Linked DNA regions of Homo sapiens: all the other regions are linked to region 1. Evidence: fine-mapped expression QTL. Tissue or cell type: whole blood. Region 1 holds a variant in brackets; each other region holds the start of a gene. All regions are shown on one strand. Distances are from middle to middle.

Region 1 (5,145 bases):
AATCAGTCCAGTTGTTTCAAAATATAGTTTCTTTCTTTGCCAAAGGACCCAAAAGCTACACAGCTTGGGGAACTAGGAGAAAGAATTTGTCCTGCGGAAGATCCCAGATTGGCATTCCTGGCTCCATGTTCTGGGAACAAAAGGAGGGGGCAGGAAGGAAGGAGCCCCTTCTACCCAATCAAGGGCTTCCCGTCACAGCCCCTGTGGAAACTGTGGTCCTCCATCCTGGCCAGAGAAAGAGCCACCAGGGAATGGCATAAGGGGTTAGAACAGTTGCTCCCTGGCTCAGGTAAATATAGCACGGGGGTCCCTGAGGAAGCAAATTTGGCAGTCTATTTTTAATAGAACAAGAGAAAAATAATGCTTACATTTCTTTTCAGAGCCAAGTTTCTAATTATGAGTTTTAAACAAGATGTGTGTCTATGGCCAGGTGCGGTGGCTCAGACCTGTAATCCCAGCACTTTGGGAGGCCAAGGCAAGAGGATTACTTGAGCTCAGGAGTTTGAGACCAGCCTGGGTGAGTGAGGCCCTGTCTCTACTTAAATAAAAAAAACAAAGAAAGATGTGTGTTAATGAAAGGATGCAAGGCAATGGAAGGCAGGCAGAAATGCAGCCGAGCTCCCCCTGCCATGTCCCTCCTCCCACTCCTGGGGTGGGCAGGGCCACTTGCCCGTGGTGGTGACGGAACACTGCCTAAAACTGCTCAAACCTCTCCTCTTTTCGAGGCCCTGCCCGCCCCTCCCATAGTTAGTAGCTCCAGTTCCATGTGGGCATTCCTACCACTGCCCCCAGCACTTTCTGTGTGGCTCTGTCTGTGCAACCCCAGGCTCTCCTGGCTGCATGTTCACCTTTGTGTCCCTCCAGCACCCGTGCAGTGAGCATCCAGCACGAGGCAGGCACCAAGAGTTCCTTCTTGTCCCCAGGTTCCAACCTCACTAATCTAGCCCTCAGACGATCCCCATCCCTTCTTAGAACTCAAAGATTATCTCCAAAACTGTGAGTGTCCCTGATTATGTCTAGAATAAATGTTTCCAGAACAAATTCTCCATGACTAGCCTCTGCTGCAATTCTCAACCTTTGCTCAGTCTCTTACTAAGCCCCACCCTCTCCACTGCACAAACCACACTGGGCTCTGCTGTTCCGCAGCAGCATCCTGTACTTCCCTGTCTCCACACCCTTGCTCAGGCTTTTCTTTCTGTCTGGAATGCCCTTTCCTCTTCTCCAACTACAGCCACTCATCCCTCTGGGGAACTTTCCTCCAGGTGGCCTTCCCCCACCCAGTGGAACAGAACCGCCTTTCCTGTTTCCTCCTGATGGGGTCTGTAGCAGCCTGAGAGCAGGGCCAAGTCTTCACTGTGTCTGTAACCCAAAGGCCCACTGCAGATGCCTTACACTATCAAATCAGGTTCCCGGGGATAGAGTCTTATAGCTTTAATGAATTTCCTTCATAGCACTTATACTCTGAAATGGTATATACATTTGCTGACTATAAGACAGAAATTCTGAGGGCAGAGACTCCACTCCTTATTCTATTCACCACTATACACCCAGGAATTACTACTGAGCACAGTAGGTGTTCAATACATTTGGTTTATTCCTCCAAAAACTAAAAATGGAACTATCATATCATCCAGCAATCCCACTTTGGGTATTTGTCCAAAAGAACTGAAATCAGGACTTTGAAGAGATATCTGCACACCCATGTTCACTGCAGCATTATTGGCATCATTTCTTTATCCATTCATTCATTGATGGACGCTTTATGGCAACAGCCAAGATGTAGAAATAAGAAAAGCATCCATCAGTGAATGAACGGATAGAGAAAATGTGGTGTACACATCCAATGGAATACTATTCAGCCTTAAAAAAAATTCTGCAATATGCAACAACATGGATGGCCCTTGAGGAAAAAAACATGCTAAGTGAAATAAGCCCATCACAGAAGGACAAACATACATAATTCTACTTGTATAAGATATGTAAAATAGTCAAACACACAAAATCAGAGAGGGGAACCATGACTGCCAGAGGCTGTGGGGAGAAGGAAATGGGGCTTTGCTAATCAACCAGCATAAAATTTCAGTTAGGCAAGATGAATAAGTTCTAGAGAT[T/C]TGCGGAACCACACTGTGCCTATAGCCACATTGTGCTTGTAATGGATACTTAAAAATGCGTAAAGAGGGTAGATTTCGTTAAGTGTTCTTATCACAGTAAAATACAGTAAAATTGGTTTAATCAAGTGAATTCACTTGAACAAGAAATGTAACTGATTTTTAGCAATCTGGCAAGTTTAGTTGCTTAAATAGTGGTATGCGTTTCTAAAAAAGGGTTGTTACTAACTAGGGGAAGTGTAAATCATCTCAAAGTAAACATCAACTATCTGGGATCGCTCAGGTATTATAAATACACTTCGAAAAGAGTCCCTTTAGTTAATAATAACAGCCACTTCAGGGCAAGGAGTCTCTGCATTGTTTCCTGGCTGAGTTTACTTCGCAACTAGAAAAGTCTGCTTCTGAAAATGTCTTCTGAAAATGTCATTGTGGCAGAGAGCAAAATGATAGCTATAAATCAACAACTGCAGCAAATATTTACTTAGCTCTTACTACATTCCTGCACTGCCCTGTGAGCTCCATATCACTACAATCTTGTAATCCTTGCAACAATCCCATGAAGTAGGTACTTTTATTACCCCCATTTTACAGGGGAGGAAAAAAGACTCAGAGAGGTTAAGTATCCGACCCAAGGCACACAGCTGTTTCTCAGGGGAGCCCGGATTCAAACCCAGGGACTCGGATCCTAGAGCCTGTGCTTTCACCCGCTGCGCTGCACCATATGTGTACCAGGATGGTAGAATCAGAGGTGAGTGTACTTTATTTTCTCCTTTTTGATTTGTGGTTTCCTAAGTGTTCTACAATGAATATATATTATTTTTATATCAAGAAAACAAATATGCATATTGTAAAAATTATTGGCCCACTTGCATTATTATTGAGGAGGTTGTTCTTTTTCTTCTACAATGGTGCTTCTGGTGAAGGTCTGGATTCCAGCATTTCCCTGCCAGAGGCTATGGTGGGTGTGCCGAGCACCACCCTGAGGGGGAAGCAGTATCTCAGCAACTACACCCCCGAGGAAGAGGCAGTCCCCAATCAGCGGGAGCAATGGGACCTGCTGATGACAAAATAAGCCACAGAATGAATGGCTCTGCTCCACTGGCCTTCTCTCCTCCCTGCCCCCTTTTCCCCAGCTGACCAGATGCAGGGCAGTGGCAGGGAGGGGCTGATACCAAACCCGGTCTGGGAGACTGCCCGGAGGGAACACAGGTTCCCAAGCTCCTTTTGGAGAGGCTGGATGTGAGTTCACCTCGAACCTTTCAGCTGGTAATGGCCACCTCTTGGAGAATGTAACTGGTTACCAGAAAACCCCAGAGGTTGTCTCCCAGTACCTAGCCTAAAGTGGGTGTGGCCACAGAACCTACCAAAATTTAAATAAAAGCAAGAACTAGGCGTGTCCAGGGATGGCGTTGTGCTGTTTATCCGCTCTCTGCTCTTCCCACTCCTCCTTCCTTTGGGATTTTGTCCAAGACTCTGTAAATTAATTTTTCTGTGCCTGTTTCCTCATAAAATAAACAAGCTAACCTCACAGCCTGTCCCTCCTTCCTCTGGGGGATATGTGACAATAACAGATGGGTGAGCCACATGTCCCTGAAGGCCCCTCCAGGGCAAGGGCGGGAGAGCCCCACATCACAGGTTCGTGCCACGCCACAGACATGGGAACAGAGGAAGGTTCCACGCCAGTACTCGGCCCACTGAACGCTGCTGCTTCTGGGCATGTGACCAAGTGAAAGGGAAAATTGGGTTTCGCATCTCACTTTCCATCTCAGATTAAATACCAGATGAAGAAGCAGGCCCATTTAAAGAAGGCTGAGCCCTGGAGAAAGACAGCAACATGGTATTATCAGTCATTTTAGGCTCTTTGCTGGAGAGGGAAGTTGGTAAAAAAACCTACCAAGAAAATCCTGTAAGTCCTGGAGCCTGGCTTAACAATTTCATTCTGCTGGGCCTCAGTTTCTATACCTGTGAGTCAGATGATCAAAAAGGATTCTTTCTAGATCTTAAATTTTAGCTATATAGGGTGGTTCCAAACAGTAAGCTTCTTTGAAATAAAAAGCCAGATTCCCAGGAAAATCGATTTAGCTCAGCGTCTGTATAGTACAGACACGAACTAGTTACAGTGCCAGCCTAAGATGACCCTTCAGATGGCTACAGTAGACCCTTCAGATGGCTACAGGAATACTGAATGAACAACTCTAAATGACACAATTATCAAACAGTAAGTTTCATTTTATTACATCCCTTCTACTGGATTCATGTGCTATATAGCATTTGGGCCAATTTGAAGGTCCTTGAATGTTTCTATAGGTGTAATTAGTTGCCCCAAAGTTTAACTTATTGTCATCCAATTCCAAACAACTCTATACTGAAAGAAACTATCTGAGGAAGGGTTGTGGAATGTATGACTTCCAAGGATGCTTAAGAAGTCACCCCATCTAACCTTCTGATATTATTATATATTAGGATGAACAGATCCAGGAATCCCGTGTCACGCACATGGAAATTGTCCATTCCTCATTTTTCAAGTGGGCTTTGTGTATAAGTCAGGCTAGAAAGTCTCATACAATATGTCTATAAATCAGACGGAGTTGGCGTGGCAAACATTACTTGCACTGAATTTTCTTGAGGCAAAATGCCAACAGACTCCACCCAAATGTGATGAGGTCAAACATTTATAAGCAAGGCTTTGACCGTGACAATGCATCTTGTCATTCTGTGGTTCAGAAGGGCAAAGGTAATGTTTCTTCAGGCTACAGTTTTCTAAAGAGAAATGTTAAACCAACGGGATGACAACTGGGGTCATAAAGGGCTAGAAAGCAACTTCTGACCTGAAGACCCCACCCCTCGCCCTGCCCTGTTCCTCTTTTCAAACATCTTGGCATTGCACAAGTGTCCTGCATGCCTGTGGACAACAGCTGGCACTGCAGACCAGCTCTAGCAATTAAGTTATCAGCTAACCAGCTCCTCAAGCCAAACTATTACTCAGAGACAGTTATTTCTGGGCTTATGTCACAGATGGAAAGAAAGACCCAGTCAG
Region 2 (5,145 bases), 44 kb after region 1:
CCGCTCAAGATGAATCCATGGTTCATTTACAGTGTCTGGGGTGATATTTAATTCCAAGTTCACAAGTCTCCAGGGTAGCTGCCCTTTTGTTTGGGGATTTCCTCCCGGGTGCTAAATCACTTCCTCCTAGCTCCAATCTGAAAAGCAATTCAGGTCTCCTGTGGCCTCACCAAGCTTCCTGCCCACACTGATTTTCTTCTAACCTCACTGGTCTACCTTGTGTACATCACCTAACAACAAAGCCACTTAGCTCAAGGAAAGCCTCAAGAACAAATGGCTTCCTAATAAGGTGATTCCTCCCTCACCCTAGGGTGGCCCACAGCTCCAGCACCTGCTGAGAGGTGGCCAATTTGGATGAGGTAGCTGCCAGGAATCAAATCTCAGAACCCTTCATAAAACTGCGCTTAGCTATTCCACAAATTTCTCCAAATAATGAAACAGAGAGAAGAGTGAGAATATAATGAGAGAGAAATCTGGAAAAATACAAAAGATAAATTCATGTTCCTGTGAGTTGTATTCATCTTCCTGGGAGTTGATAATCAGGCTGGCTAGCTATCCAGTCTATGGGAGCAGAGAGAGGGCTGCATTATCTCCAGGTTGGCACAGCATCTAGCAGGGGCTCCCTGATGACACCTGGGCACAACAAGGACCTCACAGCAAAGACAAACAGGAGGAAATGCCTAGGGTGTGGGGACATGCCACCACTAAATTACAAAAATATATGCCTTTCTTCTTTGTATGTTTCAACAGTACCGCTTCCCACTCTTGTACCACTTGGCCATAACACTTTATTATCCCTAGTACCTAAAAACTAGACAGTATTACTGAGACCTTAAATGTGACATTTGTCATCTTTCAAGGTGCCAGTTACTGTAATACAGCTATGGTTCATTTTGAGTGTCTGGGTGACGGTGACATATTTAATTCTATTTTTGTCTTGTCCATAAGCACCAAATAAAGCAATTTTGAAATTACTTTCTTCACACTCAATTTATTATCTAGAACGACATTTCAATACACAGTATATTTGTTTTGTGGAATTCATTCGCAGTGTATCTGGAGGCCTGGATTTAACATATTTCCTGTAGTGATAGCTACTCTATTTGTAGGAACTATTTAGGTCACTGGAGTGGAGAAAAAGAGGTCGCTACTTAACAGAAATGGCATGTATCCAAATATAGATGCAGTTTTCTCAACACCTGTTGCACATCAAATGATGAAGAGATTGTTACAATTTCCAAAACCCTGGACCAAAACCTTAAATGATCAGCACTTTGTTTCAACTGATACACGGCTTAAGTCAGAAAAATAAGTTCTTCTTACCAAAAACAGTGAGCCTAAATATGCTGGCTGCTTTAGAAATAAAACAGGTGATCAACAAAGCAATCTGTTTCTGTCTAAATAATTTCCCAGCAAAAGTCACTTCTTTTGAAACTATATGATTTGAACCACAGGGTATGCACAGTGATTGTGTGCTTTCAGAAACACGGTAAGCATGACAAATATTTTCAGTTGTCAAGGGTAAGCGAGGAGGGAATGACCCACCTAAGAAATGGAAACTAACAAATAGTAATATGACACTCCCCCTTAGTTCCACAGGCTGGTGCGGCTGCTACACGCAGCTCACTTCCTACGGGCGGCTAAAGGCGGTGCATGAACTGAACGTAGGCGGCCTCTTTATCCCCTCCCCACAACACTGTGGGGTGGCACGTAAAGACCTCAAGGGAAGGGGGCCTGGGCGATACGCTCTCCTGCTGCCATTCATTTGTTCAAGAAATAGTTGAACAAATGAATAGTTAAACAAACTCTCCAACTAGGACTCTGTCCCATTCGGATACCCTACGCCTCTCCCCCCATTTCCATCCCTAGGCATCACTCCCTCGTCAAGAATATGCTGATTATGGCTCGCGCCCCCTCTCTCCCTTGGACCCTCCCGCCAGGGCGACCGGACGAGGCCAGCGGGAGCAACGCCTTCCGAACCGCAAGGAAGGAGGGCTCGGAGTGCGCAGGGCGCGGGTTCGCGGGACCCTCCAGCGCGCGGGGCTGGCCAGCCGGGGCGGGGCCGAGGGCACCGGGCGCCGAGCTCCGGGAGGGGTCCCCGAGGTCGCGCCGGCCGGGAGGGGCAGCGGCGGGAGGCGGCCGACTGCGGCGCACACGTGGGGAGGGCGGAGCGGGGCGGGAGCCGGGCGAGGGGCGGTGACGGTACCTGATGAAGGTGGTCTTGCCGGTGCTGTACTGGCCCACCAGCAGGATCATGGGCTTGTTCTCGAAGTCGGCGTCCTCCAGCGCAGGCGAGTGGAACTCGTGGAAGCGGTACGCCTCCTCCAGCGGCAGCACCTTGCGCAGGTAGAGCGAGCGCAGCCCGCCCGTCACCGTCTGCACCGCGTCCGCGCCGCCAGCGCGTTCGCGCCCGCCCGCCTGCCGCCCCATCCAGCTGAACATCCTGCCGCCAGTCCACGCTCGGATGGGACCCTGCTCCGGGTTCGACTCTCCCCGGCTCGCACTGAGCCGCCCCGGCCGCGCTGGCCGCCGCCCGAGGAGGGCCCCGCCTTGTGCTGCCACAGCCAGTCTTCGGCCGCTACGTCACGCGCGCTCGCCCACTATTCAGACGAGCTCTCTCAGGTCCTTCCTGATTGGATCTCTGCCAGAGAGGGCTGAAGGCGTCAGCCAATTGAGAGGAGGTTCTTAATGAATTATTGATGACGGAGTCATTCTAGAGGACTGGGCGGGGAGATGGTGTCTTCCCGGCCGGGTGGCACTGACCGGTCATGCTCAGGGCCCCCTTCTGGTTGCCGGTGCCTCACCTCTGGCCAGGTGGCATCGGCTTCCGGGTAAATCTGAGCTGCCCAAAGCGAGCCTCCGGAGGCTGCTCCATCTCCTGGAACGTTTACTCATTCAGGCCTCTGGACGTCGATACTGGGGATGAAAAGTTCAGAAAGTGGACAGGCAGGTTCTGTCTTCCCGGGGGCGGGTGGTTATGACTCCGTTTTACAGGCCAAGAGACCCAGGCTCACGGGCATAATTGACACAATCTTGAGGGGAAGTGGACTGGAATCTATTTGAGTAGCCGTTTCTCCTACTTCTCCACATTGCCCTCACTAAATTCTGGATCAGCTAAAGGCTTTTTCCCCTTAGTTTTCTTTATGTGTTTTTCTGTAAAGCCGAAAATTTAGTCATTACTCTCATTATTACATTATCCTCATTATTACAACTTTATTTCCACATATTGACATGTGAGTCATTGTCACCTCCTAGCTGTTTTTTGTTGTTGTTGTTGTTTTCTGAGACGGAGTCTCGCTCTGTCGCCCAGGCTGGAGTGCAGTGGCACGATCTCGGCTCACTGCAACCTCCGCTTCCCGGGTTCAAGCAATTTTCCTGTCTCAGCCTCCTGAGTAGCTGGGACTACAGGCGCTCACCACCATGCCCAGCTAATTTTTGTATTTTTAGTAGAGATGGGGTTTCACCATATTGGTAAGGCTGGTCTTGAACTCCTGACCTCAGATGATCCGCCTGCCTTGGCCTCCCAAAGTATTGGGATTATAGGCGTGAGCCACCGCCCCTGGCCTGTTTCTTTTCTAGGTTAAAAGGATACTCACTTATCTAAGTTGAGATTGGGGGAAATAATCACCTTTTGTGTCCTTGATTGTAGCTTAGGAATATTTCTTAGTTGTTTTAGAGCATTTCTCAAGTGTGATCCATGGGGCCACCTGCATATATGCATTTATGAGCTGGGATGCTTGTTAAAATGCAGATTCCTGGTCTTCAGTCCAGACCTACTGAGTTAAAATATTGAGGAGAGATGGAGCTCAACAGATGCCCTAGGTGACTCTGATGTGGCCTAAGTCTGGGGAAACAGTACACCCTGCAGTACTTCTCCAACCTAACAGAAATGCGGATTCTGATTCGGTAGGTATGGGATGGGGCCCATGACTCTACATTTCTAACAGGCTCTCGGGTATTGCCAATGCTACCCATCCCTGGACCATACTTGGAGTATGAGAGAACAGGACTTTGCATCAAAAGATCTGGGTTTGAACCTTGACTATGTAAATTAATGGCTGTGTGATTTTAAATGTGATGAGTTACCTCTCTGCCCTAGTTTCCTTAAGAGCAAAATGGAAACTCCTTTGGAGTTGTTGTGTGGGTCACATAGTTGGAGGGAATTGTATGTAACTAGGGAAGTGAAAAGAAAGCCAAGGGAAAATAAAGTTAGACATCTGCCTTGTGTCAAAATAAAACAAAGATTGAAATGTAAAAAGAAAATGAAACCACTGCACTACTAGAAGAAGGTACAAGAGATTTATACAATTTGGCGGTGGAAAAGCCTTTCTAACCAACATTAAGGACAGAAATTATGAAAGCAAAGGCTGACATATTTGACAACAAAAGTAAAAGCTTCGATGTATTTTTTTAGAATACATAAAAACAAACGGATATAAATACAATCTTACCATATGATGCAGAAATCAGCTCCTTAGTATTTACCCAAATGAATTGAAAACTTATATCCACAGAAAAGCCTGTACATGGATGTTCATAGTGGCTTTATTCATAAGTGCCAAAAATTGGAAGCAACTAACATGTCCTTCAGTAAGTGAAAGGATAATCTGTGGTACATCCAGACAATGGAATCTTATTCAGCACTAAAAAGAAATGAGCTATCAAGCCATAAAAAGACACAGAGGAAACTTAAATGCCTATTACTAAGTGAAAGAAGCCAATCCGAAAATGCTATGTACTGTACGATTTCATCTTTATGACATTCTGGAGAAGGCAAAATTATGGAGGAAGTAAAAAGGTCAGTAGTTTCTAGGTGTTAGGGAGAAGGAAGGAATGAACAGGCAGAGAACAGAGGATTTTTATGGCAGTGGCTCTACTTTTTATGGTACTATAATGATGGATACATGTCATTATATATTTGTCAAAACCCACAGAATGTACAACACCAAGAGTGAATGTAAGTGATAATGACTCGTGAATTTCAGATCAGTTTTAGGTTCACAGCAAAATGGAGCATAAAGTACCGAGAGTTCCCATATACCCCCACCCTCCCCGACACACAGCCTCCCCCACTATCAACATCCTGAACCAATGGAACATTCGTTACAATCAATAAACCTAACCTAAATAGATACATCACTAAAT
Region 3 (5,145 bases), 34 kb before region 1:
CATCCCTCATTCTGCCACACATTCCCTGTGTGTTTGCGGCAACTCCGTCATCCTTTCTAGACCACAGTTGCCTCCTATGTGTATGGAGACAAGGATGTCACCCTCACAGGTATCAGTGACATGCTGTATATTAAAGCTTGGGGAGAGCTGCAACACCTCTGACAAAGGCTGTGGGGCTTACACCCTTCCCCAGTTCCTGGAGGGGAGATGACTGGCTCACAGGGTCATTGTCCCTGGATCAACTAGGGCCCAGCATTCTGCAGCTGGCAGCGTTCTGCTCTTGCACCTGCTCAGGACAGCAGTCACTCCCATTCCCTTTGCTTGGGCTTCTCCCCTCCCTGGCTTTCCTCCAACACACCCCAGGAGGCTGGATGTAAGCTCCACTCCAGGATATAGTGATAGGCACGCACAGTCAGGCTCCATCCAGCCAGGCCCAGCTCAGTGACTTCACAGCCTCCAGGGACAGCCACCTCCAGGAGCCCTTGGCCTTCACAGTTCCCGGTTTCCAATGATCCCTTTGCCCCACCCCACCCCTGCACCAGCCCCTCACCCTGGCCATGAGGGTCCCTCTGTCCCTGGAGCTCCGGCCTCCTTTTAGTGCCCATCTCCTTAGCCTGTCCCTTTCTTTCAGGTGACTCTGCCTCCCCCCATTTGCTGAGGCCTCCTCCCTCCTTCTCCAAGACAGGCCCTGCTCCTCTTCCCCACCTGCCGTCTTAGTCCCACATCTGGGCTCTGTTGGCTGGTTAACCATCGATCTTGCCTGGTAAATAATTCAGGGCCTCTGTTTCCTCATCTGTGAAATGAAAAGCCTAAGAGAACGCTAAGATTCTTTTGGCCTAGAATCCTGTGAGTCTCTCTTATGACAGACAGTGACATTTTCCACCCCAGTAGGGACCTGGATTGCTACTGCCATGGCCAGCTGGGTGCTCTCCAAGTCAGGGGTGCTGTGCGAGGAGGGCGTGGCTTCTGCTCCTCTGTGTCCCAGCCACTCCTCCTGTACTCAGGCCCCAGCTCCTCTGTTCTGCCCAGTGGCCTGGCGCAGGAAAGGTGACCCAGTAGTTCAGCCTGTCCCAGCTGCCTGCCCCAGCACCATCCCAGACCCCTTTCCCTGGGGCCCACCTTGGCCCTGAGGAAGGCCAGAGCTCGGCTGCTGTTCTCCAGGAAGTGCACACGCAGGCGGCCCCGGCTCGGGGGTGGCAGGGCCTCCCCTGAGATGAGCTCCAGCAGCCGCAGGAGGTGGATGCCGTCAGCCAGCTCTGTGTACAGGTTCCGGATCTTGATGCCCGCCTGGGGAGGGGACAGGGGTAAGTATGGGGTCAGCCCAGCCTCACCTGTCCTCCCATCCTGGGACCTGAGAGGTACGACCCAGAGCAGCTGCTTTGGAAGAAGGAGCTCTGGCCTCAGCTTGGCCTCAGGCAGATGACCCCACAGCTCACCCCGGAGGCCCACTGGCCAGAGCTGGGGGCCTGGTATGGGTGGGCTGTGGGTCACAGCTGGCTATACTCACCTGGCCGCACTGGAAGACGTTATTGATCCACTTGGTGAAAGTCTTCTCCTGCATCTGCATGTGCCGGGCCTGTAGCTTGCGAATGTGGCCCGTCTCGTACTGAGAGTCCATGGTGAGACTTGGACTGGGCGGGACCCGGAGTTCTGTGCTGGGCCTCCTGCTGCGGTGCCCTGCAGCCCCGAGGAGCTCCCGGGGACTGTGGGGCTGACCAGCCATCAGCCCTGCAGACTTTGGGGATGAGGAGCTGCTGGATGGCTCCCTAAACCTGGAGGGCATGCAGATTAGGGGATGATGTGAATGGAGATGGCCCCTCTACCAGGGGCCTGGGGTCCCGCCTTGCCAGACTGTCCTCACATTTCATGGGGGTTGCAGCTTGGAGCCCAGCCAGGTAAGGGCCAGTGCTTCTGGTCCCCTGTGCTTGAATGGCCCAGGGCCCCCTTTGCCCCACCCCACCTTCCAGATTCTTCTTCTCAGAGCCCCTGCTGCCAGGTCCCTCCACCACAGTGACTGGGACAGGTGGAAGGAAGACAGGAAACTGCTTACCTTGGTGATGCCTGGGTCCCACAGAGACGGCTCTGCTGGACGGATGGAGATGGTAGATAGCAGGGGCTGCTTACCTTGGTGATGCCTGGGTTCCACAGAGGCGGCCCAGCTGGACGGATGGAGATGGCAGATAGCAGGGGCTGTGGAGGGAGGGAGAGGGACATCAGGAGAGGCCAAGGCTGGAGCAGGGCTGCACCACAGCCCTCCCCTTGAGCCAGCGTGCTGGGGTGACGGCACACAGGCGGCATTGTCCTCCCACCTGCCACAGGGCGTGGCCCAGACAGGGAGGGGGTGGTTCAGGAATGCTCCAGGGCCATTGCCAGATGATGTCCTCCTTCATCATCCTCCCTTCCCCGCCAGCAACTTCTCCAACTCCAGGTGGGGGTCCTGGCTCCCAGGACGCAGAGGCCCATGGAGCGGCCCTGCCACCGCATGGGGTGCTGCAGTCTGCGTAGGAGGTACCAAAGGGCAGAGCCTCTGTGGGAAGCCTGTGGACGCACTTCCCAATCTGAGACTGCCCTCTGTACCCTCTTGGGGCCTCTCTGTGAGCACCCAGGGCGAGGGGATGAGGGAGCGTCCTGGGCCGTGGTCTTCTCATTCACCCCCAGGGAACAGCCCATAGACTGAGGGCCTCACAGACCCTGGGCTTGGCTTTCCAGGCCCTGCCAGAGTGCAGCCTGCCTAGCCCGGGGCTGAAGGGTAGGCTCCCTGGAGGAAGGGGTGACCTGGAACTGCGAGGGCTGTGGAGTCTCCTCCAAAATTAGAGACACGGTGTTAACTCTGGGCTCCACAGAGCTGGCCGTGGCCCGGGGCTCGGAGGCAGGGGTGCAGAGGGAGCTGGTGGGCGCCCATCCCTTCCTCCCCGAGCAGCCGTGGACTACATGCCAGAGTGAAGGCGAGTTCTAATTCTGGGGGTCTCACCCGCCTCTGGCTAAACTCAGGGTAGCAGTGTGGGCTGGGGTGTGTGTGTGTGGGTGTCTTCCAGCGGCCCTGGAGCCTCTGAAGCGACAGCCCGCTCCTCAGGGAGGCGCTCCTGGCAGCCACAGCCCACAGCAGGACAGCCGCTCAGCGCGCCCTTGAGAGCTGGGCTAGGGATGAGTCACACTTGAACCGCCTGGGCCCACTGCAGGCAGTCAGGGGTGACGCTGAGAGGTGCCGTGGTCTCGGGTGGGGTGCGGCTTCCTGCGTCTGAGAGACGCTTCCTCTCCTGCTGTCCTCTCCCTGCCAGGCCCCTTCTGCAGCGGCTGGCTTCCAGACACCCTGCGTCCCTCCCTTGCTCGCAGCAGTTGCTGTGGCGGTCCTCCCGTGCACCCCCCCTTCTGCCCTCACTGCCCCTGGGGGTCCTCATCACGGACCCCCTAACTCGGCATCCTGGACACCACCACCCCGCACCTTTCCACAGTGCAGCTCTGCTCGTGCCTGTGAAGCCTCCCACAGCCTGGGAAGGAAAATCCAGACTTGCCAGACCTTGCCTCAGCCAGGCCTTGGAAGCCTGCCAGCTTACCTAACCAGGCTAGTCTGCCCCCCTCACTCTGGGTGCTCTCCATGGGCCACTCACCATTTCCTGAGCAGGACCAGAGCTCTCCTGCCCCAAGGCTGGGCTTCAGCTGCTCTTTCAGCTTTGAACGTCCTTTCCCATTCTCCATCATCCACATTCACCTATCCTGCCTGCCCCAGTTAAAATCCTGTTTCTTCTAGGAAGTCCCTCATCCCACCCGCTTACCCCAGGGAGACTGAGCTTGTTCCTTCTCCTAGTAAGACCCTCAGCCCATGGAGTCCTGTGTGATGTTGTGAGCGTGGGAGGACAGACTGAACTGCTCGGCCCGTGGAGTCCTGTGTGATGTTGTGAGCGGGGAGGACAGACTGAACTGCGTGGTGCTTCGCACATAGACCTCAACAGGGATTGGCATTTTGAAGCTGTTGGCGGGGGCTGTGGACTGCTTTTCTTCCTTTCTAGCTCAACGGCAGCTAAAGCCACTGCATACAATGCAAGGACTGGCTCCTGTTTGGCCACGACTGATTGCAGCCCCTGGTGAAATGAGAACCCTGTGGGTCGGAACAAAGTTTGGATTATTTATGTTGCAAGTAACTAAAATCTCAAGTGAAACTGGTTTAAACATTATATTTTTATTATTTATTTATTTATATTTAATTCTTTTTTAGAGACAGGGTCTTCTTAGGTTGCCCAGGCTGGTCTTGAACTCCTGGCCTCAACGATCTTCCCACTTCAGCCTCCTGCATTGCTGGGATTATAGGTGTGAGCCACCATGCCTGGCTTACACAGTATAAAGGGAATGCATTGGCCCACACAGTGGAAAAAAATATCTAGTAGGAATAGGAAGGACTTCAGGTGAGGTTTGATCCAGCAGCTCAAATGTTGTCACCACAGGCCTGGATTCCTCTGGCCTTTCTCAAGGTCTCTTTCATTTTCATGCTCCACAAGATGGCTTCTGCCAGGCTGACCTCCCTCCCCTGACCCCAGCAGCTCTGGACACCCCTCTCAGTGCCATTTATATTGTTGCATCAATAGGCTCATTTCTATATACTGCAAGGTTCAGAGAAGACAGAGTATCTCTCTCAAGAGTTCTAACATAAGTCTGGGGGTCCTGGCTCTCATAGGCTTGAACAGGGCCACATGTCCATTCCTGAGCCAATATTTGTGACCAAGGGGATGTGGTCAATCTCATCCAAACCTCACTTGAAGTGAGGGTGGGAGGAGGAGTGCTCTGCAAGGAGACTGTAGGTCTGGACCACCAAAAAGGTAGATGGGTTGGTGGGAAAAGCCAGATGCCTACTATGGTAGTGGGCGGGGGGAGGGCACACTGGCAAGGTACAGCAAGAGGCAGGGGCAGTGCTGGACAGGCAGGGGCTCCTCCCTAGCACGACTGGAGAAAGGACTCCTGTGAAGCGGTCACCTCCATGAGTCCCTCCTGTCCTGGCTTCCAACCACTCTGAAGTGGGGCTTTTGTCCACAGACCTGGCCTCTGCTGCCTACCCTCTTCTGTCCCCACCTGATGGGGCCGCTTTCCTTCTGAAGCGGCTGCATTTTGGGTTTCTCTCCACAGGAAGAGTTGGGGCTCACAGGCACACCCTCT

What was found. PIP is the estimated chance that this variant, and not a neighbour inherited with it, causes the effect.
Region 2: it holds the start of EHD4, and the variant in region 1 is fine-mapped to the expression of EHD4 in whole blood (TOPMed, PIP above 0.99). The same link has a PIP of 0.9 or more in B cells, T cells, blood mononuclear cells, monocytes and non-classical monocytes.
Region 3: it holds the start of SPTBN5, and the variant in region 1 is fine-mapped to the expression of SPTBN5 in whole blood (TOPMed, PIP above 0.99). The same link has a PIP of 0.9 or more in monocytes.

Annotation. Positions count from the first base shown.
Region 1 is chr15:41,925,651-41,930,795 of GRCh38, forward strand. The region is part of intron 3 of EHD4 (EH domain containing 4); the gene reads right to left. It overlaps EHD4-AS1 (EHD4 antisense RNA 1), which reads left to right. Exons shown (of 4, transcript NR_120332.1): 2 at 431-517; 3 at 2,700-2,856; 4 at 3,032-3,636. Among named protein-coding and RNA genes, the nearest start is that of EHD4-AS1, 6.8 kb to the left of the region's middle. RefSeq lists enhancers at 241-758, 2,159-2,368, 3,264-3,767, 3,730-3,809, 3,830-3,959. The variant T/C (reference allele first, on the strand shown) is at 2,112.
Region 2 is chr15:41,970,053-41,975,197 of GRCh38, forward strand. It overlaps EHD4 (EH domain containing 4), which reads right to left and starts at 2,505. Exons shown (of 6, transcript NM_139265.4): 1 at 2,207-2,505. The coding sequence starts at 2,442. It overlaps PLA2G4E-AS1 (PLA2G4E antisense RNA 1), which reads left to right and starts at 2,711. Exons shown (of 4, transcript NR_120334.1): 1 at 2,711-2,946; 2 at 3,752-3,906. RefSeq lists an enhancer at 1-184 and silencers at 1,947-2,216, 2,317-2,386, 2,427-2,556.
Region 3 is chr15:41,891,775-41,896,919 of GRCh38, forward strand. It overlaps SPTBN5 (spectrin beta, non-erythrocytic 5), which reads right to left and starts at 2,279. Exons shown (of 68, transcript NM_016642.4): 1 at 2,125-2,279; 2 at 1,508-1,772; 3 at 1,120-1,287. The coding sequence starts at 1,723. It overlaps EHD4 (EH domain containing 4), which reads right to left. Exons shown (of 6, transcript NM_139265.4): 6 at 4,159-5,145. LOC105370792 (a long non-coding RNA gene) reads left to right here and starts at 1,003. Exons shown (of 4, transcript NR_135681.1): 1 at 1,003-1,304; 2 at 3,453-3,562; 3 at 3,806-5,145. RefSeq lists an enhancer at 1,064-1,123.